Regions from separate parts of the Homo sapiens genome. Here region 2 is linked to region 1. The links come from fine-mapping of genetic effects on gene expression. A gene starts in region 1. The other region holds a variant in brackets. All regions are shown on one strand. Distances are from middle to middle.

What was found.
Region 2: its variant is fine-mapped to the expression of NCF1 in whole blood (INTERVAL, PIP 0.91).

What each region holds. Positions count from the first base shown.
Region 1 is chr7:74,772,326-74,775,184 of GRCh38, forward strand. NCF1 (neutrophil cytosolic factor 1) reads left to right here and starts at 1,686. Exons shown (of 11, transcript NM_000265.7): 1 at 1,686-1,778. The coding sequence starts at 1,707. RefSeq lists an enhancer at 1-512.
Region 2 is chr7:74,710,394-74,713,315 of GRCh38, forward strand. It overlaps GTF2I (general transcription factor IIi), which reads left to right. Exons shown (of 35, transcript NM_032999.4): 9 at 639-716. All of the region lies in intron 2 of GTF2I-AS1 (GTF2I antisense RNA 1), which reads right to left. Among named protein-coding and RNA genes, the nearest start is that of GTF2I-AS1, 17 kb to the right of the region's middle. The variant C/T (reference allele first, on the strand shown) is at 1,310.

The DNA of each region.
Region 1 (2,859 bases):
CTGGGGCTGAGGCCCGCCACTCATGAACTCATGACCTTGAATGAGCTCCAAAAGCTCTGGGCCTCCCAGGCTCTAGGGGGAGTGGGAGAGAGAGGCCTCAGCCTGTCCCTGGGCATGCTGCCCCCTCCTCACCTCTTTGTCCCAAATCCCCTTCCTGGCAAAGCTGACAGTCTTAATATCACTCTGGAGAAAACTGAGTCAGCCCTAAGGAACAATTCAATGAACCATTTGCTTACTTGAGGATTGGAACTCAAGTCTCACTCAAAGTCTGTGCCATTTTCGTCCCAGCTGTCACTGGCCCTCATCCACACACACCCAAGGATGAGCATCTAACGCTTGCATGCACACTCCCATGCCCGCGTTCATTCACTCATTCATTCATTCATTCACTCATTCATTGACTCATTCATTCATTCACTCACTCATTCATTCACTCAGTGAATGTTGCAGTCACGATCCAAATATTTATGGCCTCTGTGTGCCAGGCACTAGATGGAGGGGCTGGGGCTAGAGCCCCTGATAACCCGGTCATGCCCTAGCTTTCCTGGGACACACATTGTGGTAAGGGGAGACTAAAAAAATTAAGTCAGGCCAGGCACGGTGGCTCATGCCTGAATCCCAGCACTTTGGGAGGCCGAGGCGAGTGAATTACCTGAGGTCAGGAGTTCAAGACCAGCCTGGCCAACATGGAGAAACCCAGTCTCTAATTAAAAAAAAAAAAAATTAACCAGGTGTGGTGGCACATGCCTGTAATCCCAGCTACTCAGGAGACTAACGCAAGAGAATTGCTTGAACCCAGGAGGCAGAGGTTGCGGTGAGCCGAGATCGCGCCATTGCACTCCAGCCTGGGAAACAAGAGCGAGACTCCATCTCAAAAAAAAAAAAGTGGGAGGCAGAGGCAGGAGGATCACTAGAGGCCAGTAGTTTGAGACCATCCTGGGCAACATAGCAGGACCCTGTCTGTACAAAAAAATTAAAAAAAATTTAACCGGGCATGGTGGCACACACCCGTAGTCCCAGCTACTCCAGAGGCTGAGGCAGGAGGATCGCTGGAGCCCAGGAGTTGGAGGCTGCAGTGAACTGTGATCCCACCACTGCACTTAAGCCTGGATAACAAAGCAAGACCCTGTCTCAAATAACAATAGCAATAATAATAAAGAAAAATTAAATGCAATTTGCGATGCATCAGTGATAAGTGCTCTGCAGAAAAAGGAGGCAGGAAGAGGCTGAGAAAGGTATGAGGTTTGCTATGCAATGTGAAGTTATCAAGGAAGGCTTCTCGGAAGAGGTGACATTTGAGCAGAGAAATGGAGGAGAGTTATGGAGGGAAGATGGTGAATGGGGGGAACATGGTCAAGACCAGGAATATGGTCAAGGGGGGAAAGATGGTCAAGGGGACGCAGCAAATGCAAAGGCCCTGAGGCAGGAGCAGCTTGATTCACCCCCAAAACCCGTGGGGCCCGTGCAGGCGACGGGAAGGACAAGTGTAAACCCTTTTCCTTGTCCCTGCAGGTGTGTGTGAACATGAGTCTGCCCATGTTTACACCCTGCAAGCCTGAAGAGTCCCCAGAAACTGAAAGAAGAAGCAAAGCCCTTTCTGTACCCTCCCTGCCCCCTGTCCCGACCGCGACAAAAGCGACTTCCTCTTTCCAGTGCATTTAAGGCGCAGCCTGGAAGTGCCAGGGAGCACTGGAGGCCACCCAGTCATGGGGGACACCTTCATCCGTCACATCGCCCTGCTGGGCTTTGAGAAGCGCTTCGTACCCAGCCAGCACTATGTGAGTAGCTGGTGGAGGGCATCCCGTGGGGGGAATACGGGAGGGACAGCACGGCCACCCTTGCAGTCCCAGGGCCAACCAGCTCCAGTGAGGACTAACGGGGCAGGGTCTTGGGCACCTGGTCCCTGGTCTTTGAGCCTGGATCTACCCCTCTGATCCCTGGGAAGACAGTTCCCTTGGACCCGCCCTGGGCCCCAGCCCTTTACTGTCCCCGCCTGTGTCCCCAGCCAGGCCCTCAGCCTTAGCCAGGAGTCCTCTTTCTGCTCCCCTGCCATGGCCAGGCAGCCCAGCGCTCTCTCAGGTCCGAGGCCCACTCCTCCAGGAAGCCTTCCCTGACTAGCCCAGCTATCAGAGAGTGGCCCTCCCAAGAGGGAGGCCTGGAAACTAAAGCTCTCTCTCTCCCCAGCTGCCTGTAGTGTCAGTTAGAGTCTTATCCTCTCCAGTAGGGTGACACCATGACAGGGGCCAATAGAGTCCTCCCATCTGTCCCCAAGGAGGCTGGACAAATGCCTGCTCAGACACACAAGTCCACTGGGTCCCCTAATCCCATAGGAAGGCCAGGGAGGAACTACATTTAGGAAATTGAAGCTTGTATGGAACATTTAGTCCTATGTGCCAAGACCTTTCTCTTTTTTGTTATTTTTTTGTTTTTTGAGACAGAGTCTTGATCTGTTGCCCAGGCCAGAGTGCAGTGGCACGATCTCAGCTCACTGCAACCTCCGCCTTCCAGGTTCAACTGGTTCTCCTGCCTCAGCCTCCAGAGTAGTTGGGATTACAGGTGCCCACCACCACGCCTGGCTAATTTTTGTATTTTTAGTAGAGACAGGGTTTCACCATGTTGGCCAGACTGGTCTCAAACTCCTGACCTCAAGTGATCCACCCACCTGGGCCTCCCAAAGTGCTGGGATTACAGGCATGAGCCACCGTGCCTGGCCTGTTTTTTTGAAATGAGGTCTGGAGTGCAGTGGTGCGATCATAGTTCACTGCAGCCTCGACCTCCCAGGCCCAAGTGATCCTCCTGCCTCAGCCCCTTGAGTAGCTGGGGCTACAGGCGCACACCACCATGCCTGGCTAGTTTTTA
Region 2 (2,922 bases), 62 kb before region 1:
TGGCCCTTCCCAAAGTCAACTTTTTAATAACATCGATTGCTTTTGCCTATTTTGACCTTCATATGAGTGGAATTACACAACATGTACTCTTTTGTATCTGGCCACAAAGGTCTGCTTCAAATCATCTGTCCTAATTGTGGGCAAAGCTTTATGCAGAAAGGTGTGCTTTGTACCCTTACACAAATCCCTGTAATAAAAGGGATGTATTAGGCAGAAAAAAACCAATGTATCTCATTATTGAAATTGTTGACCATTATGCTATCTCTCCTTTGGAATACTGAGTTATTAAAACTGATGTTTATAAGTGTGTTTCAATGGTTTATAAAAGTATTTTTAATATTAAGTGAAAAGGGAGTGTGGTAAAATTTTCTTTGATTCTAAAGATAAGAATTTGCTGGAGAAAAGAGCAGCACATAATTGCAGAATATTAATAAATGGTTAAAACTTTGCATTGGCTGGGATTATAGTGATTTTTTACCTTCTGCTACCTAGCAAACTTTTGTCTTTTCAAAGACGTAAAGTCTTTACTTAAAATAAATATGCATTGCTGTATTTATAGGGAGGGCAGAGAGGATTTCCCTACACAATCTAGCTGAAAGTTCTCACATGCAATCATATCATTGCATTTGCTTTTCTAGGCATTTCCCTGGAAATGGCAGCTGTGACAGTAAAGGAAGAATCAGAAGATCCTGATTATTATCAATATAACATTCAAGGTAATTTGAATTAATGCAATTTTTCTTTCTAAAAATTATTCGTGGTTAAAATTAAAATTTGCTCATCAATTGCTTTAATTTCTTAAATAATATTTTATTGATCAGTTCTTGATTGACATATATATTGTAATTCAGTCCCGGGGATAAAACATTTAAAAATGGGGCTAAAAGATCAACTCAGACAATCCAGAGGGGATATGTAAAATAGCCATTTGTGTTCTTAAAAGGATGAGCAAAAGTTGTGGCACAATTTAGAATTCAATCCCAGGTTCTAGTGTTGCAAAATAAAACAAACCTATTAGGCAAATGCAGATAATGTCAGCTTAATTTTTTCTCACTGCATAATTATAGTATATTAAACACTTAAAGTAAAAAATCTGGTTAGCTTTGCCATCTACATATCTAATACACCATCTTCATTGCATCCAAGATAATGAAATATCTATAACCCCAAAAGTTTCCTGTGTCCCCTTGTTATTCATTGCCCTGCCCAGTATTCAGGCAACACGGATCTGTTTTCTGTTTTAGGTTAGTTTGCATTTTCTATAAAGTCTTATGAATGAAATAATAAAATGTGGACTATTTTCATGGGC[C/T]GGGGAGCAGTGTGGCTTCTTTCATTTCAAATGATTGTTTTGAAATTCATCCACAGCGTTGCACGTATCAGTAGTAGATTCCATTTGATTGTTGATTTGTATTCTATTGTATGCCTGAGTCAAAATTTATTCATTTCTTTGTCTGTTGATAGCCATTTGGGTTCTTCCAGTTTGGGGCCATTACAAATAGAGGTACTATGAACATTGTGTAGAGGCTTTTGTGTGGACATAGGCCTTCATTTCTCTCTTTTTTTTTTTTTTTTTTGAGACAGAGTCTCACTCTGTTGCCCAGGCTGGAGTGCAGTGGCGCGATCTTGGCTCACTGCAACCTCCACCTCCCAGGTTGAGGTGATTCTTCTGCCTCAGCCTCCCGAATAGCTGGGATAGCAGGTGTGTGCCAACACACCTGGCTAATTTTTGTGTTTTTTAGTAGACACAGGGTTTCACCATGTTGGCCAGGCTGGTCTCGAGCTCCTGACCTCAGGTGATCCACCCGCCTTGGCCTCCCAAAGTACTGGGATTACAGGGGCTAACACGCTTTTTTAAAATGAAATATTTAAAACCTAAAAGCATAGTATCAGTCTGCCCAGGTTTAGTGAACCATAGTATTTGTCTCTTCTCTCCTCCCTCCAAGAAACAACGTGTAACTATTTCATTGAAGCCTTTCTTTGGGCTCCCCCAAATCCCCACTTTTCTCTCTATTCTTAAGTTAACCATGATCTTGAAAACTGAGAATTGTCCTTCCTGATGGTGATGTGCTTTACTACGTAAATATTCTCCCGGGAGTGTGTGTGTGTGTGTGTGTGTGTGTGTGTGTGTGTGTGTGTGTGTGTGTCATGTCATATTTATTGTTTTATATATGCCACTTCCTGAGTGAAGCTTACACAGTGGTACACTGTATGTGTTGTTGAGTATAGTCTGTCACTCAATTTAAGTTTTCAAGATTTATCTTTTTTTTTTTTTTTTTGGCGTGGGGGTGGGGATGGATTTTTGCTCTGTCGCCCAAGCTGGAGTGCAGTGGTGAGATCTCGGCTCATTGCAACCTCCGCTTGCCGGGTTCAAGCAATTCTCTGCCTCAGCTGGGATTTATCTGTTTTGTCACAAGTAGATTTAATCATGTCATCATGGTAGTTACACTGTGTGATTATAATACAGTTCGTTTTTTCGTTCTTCTACATAAAGACATTGATGTTTTCTTCTAAAACTTTTGTATTCCAAAATAGGCTTGGATATATTTCTCTGTGCACCTCAGTGCTCCTGTAAAATAGTGACATTCAAATGTGAGTGTTGGGAATGTGTTGATTTTCTCAATGAGTGGTAGGCACCTCAAGCATTTGAGAGGTGGAGGTTAAGTATGTTTTAGGGTGAATAAAATCAAGTACCATTTTTAGGGTGAATAAAATTCAAATATGGGACATTAAAATAATTTGAAAGTATAGTGATACGTGAAGGTATTTTGAGTAAATACCAACTAAAAAAAATATAGTTTAGCAATATTGGAAGCCAAAAACAGTAGTAGCAGGATAGAATAAGACTATGTCGTATTTAAAGGAATTGGTCACTAAGTTGATATAACAACCATTAGTTTGTATGTGCCTAACTATGTATCCTCA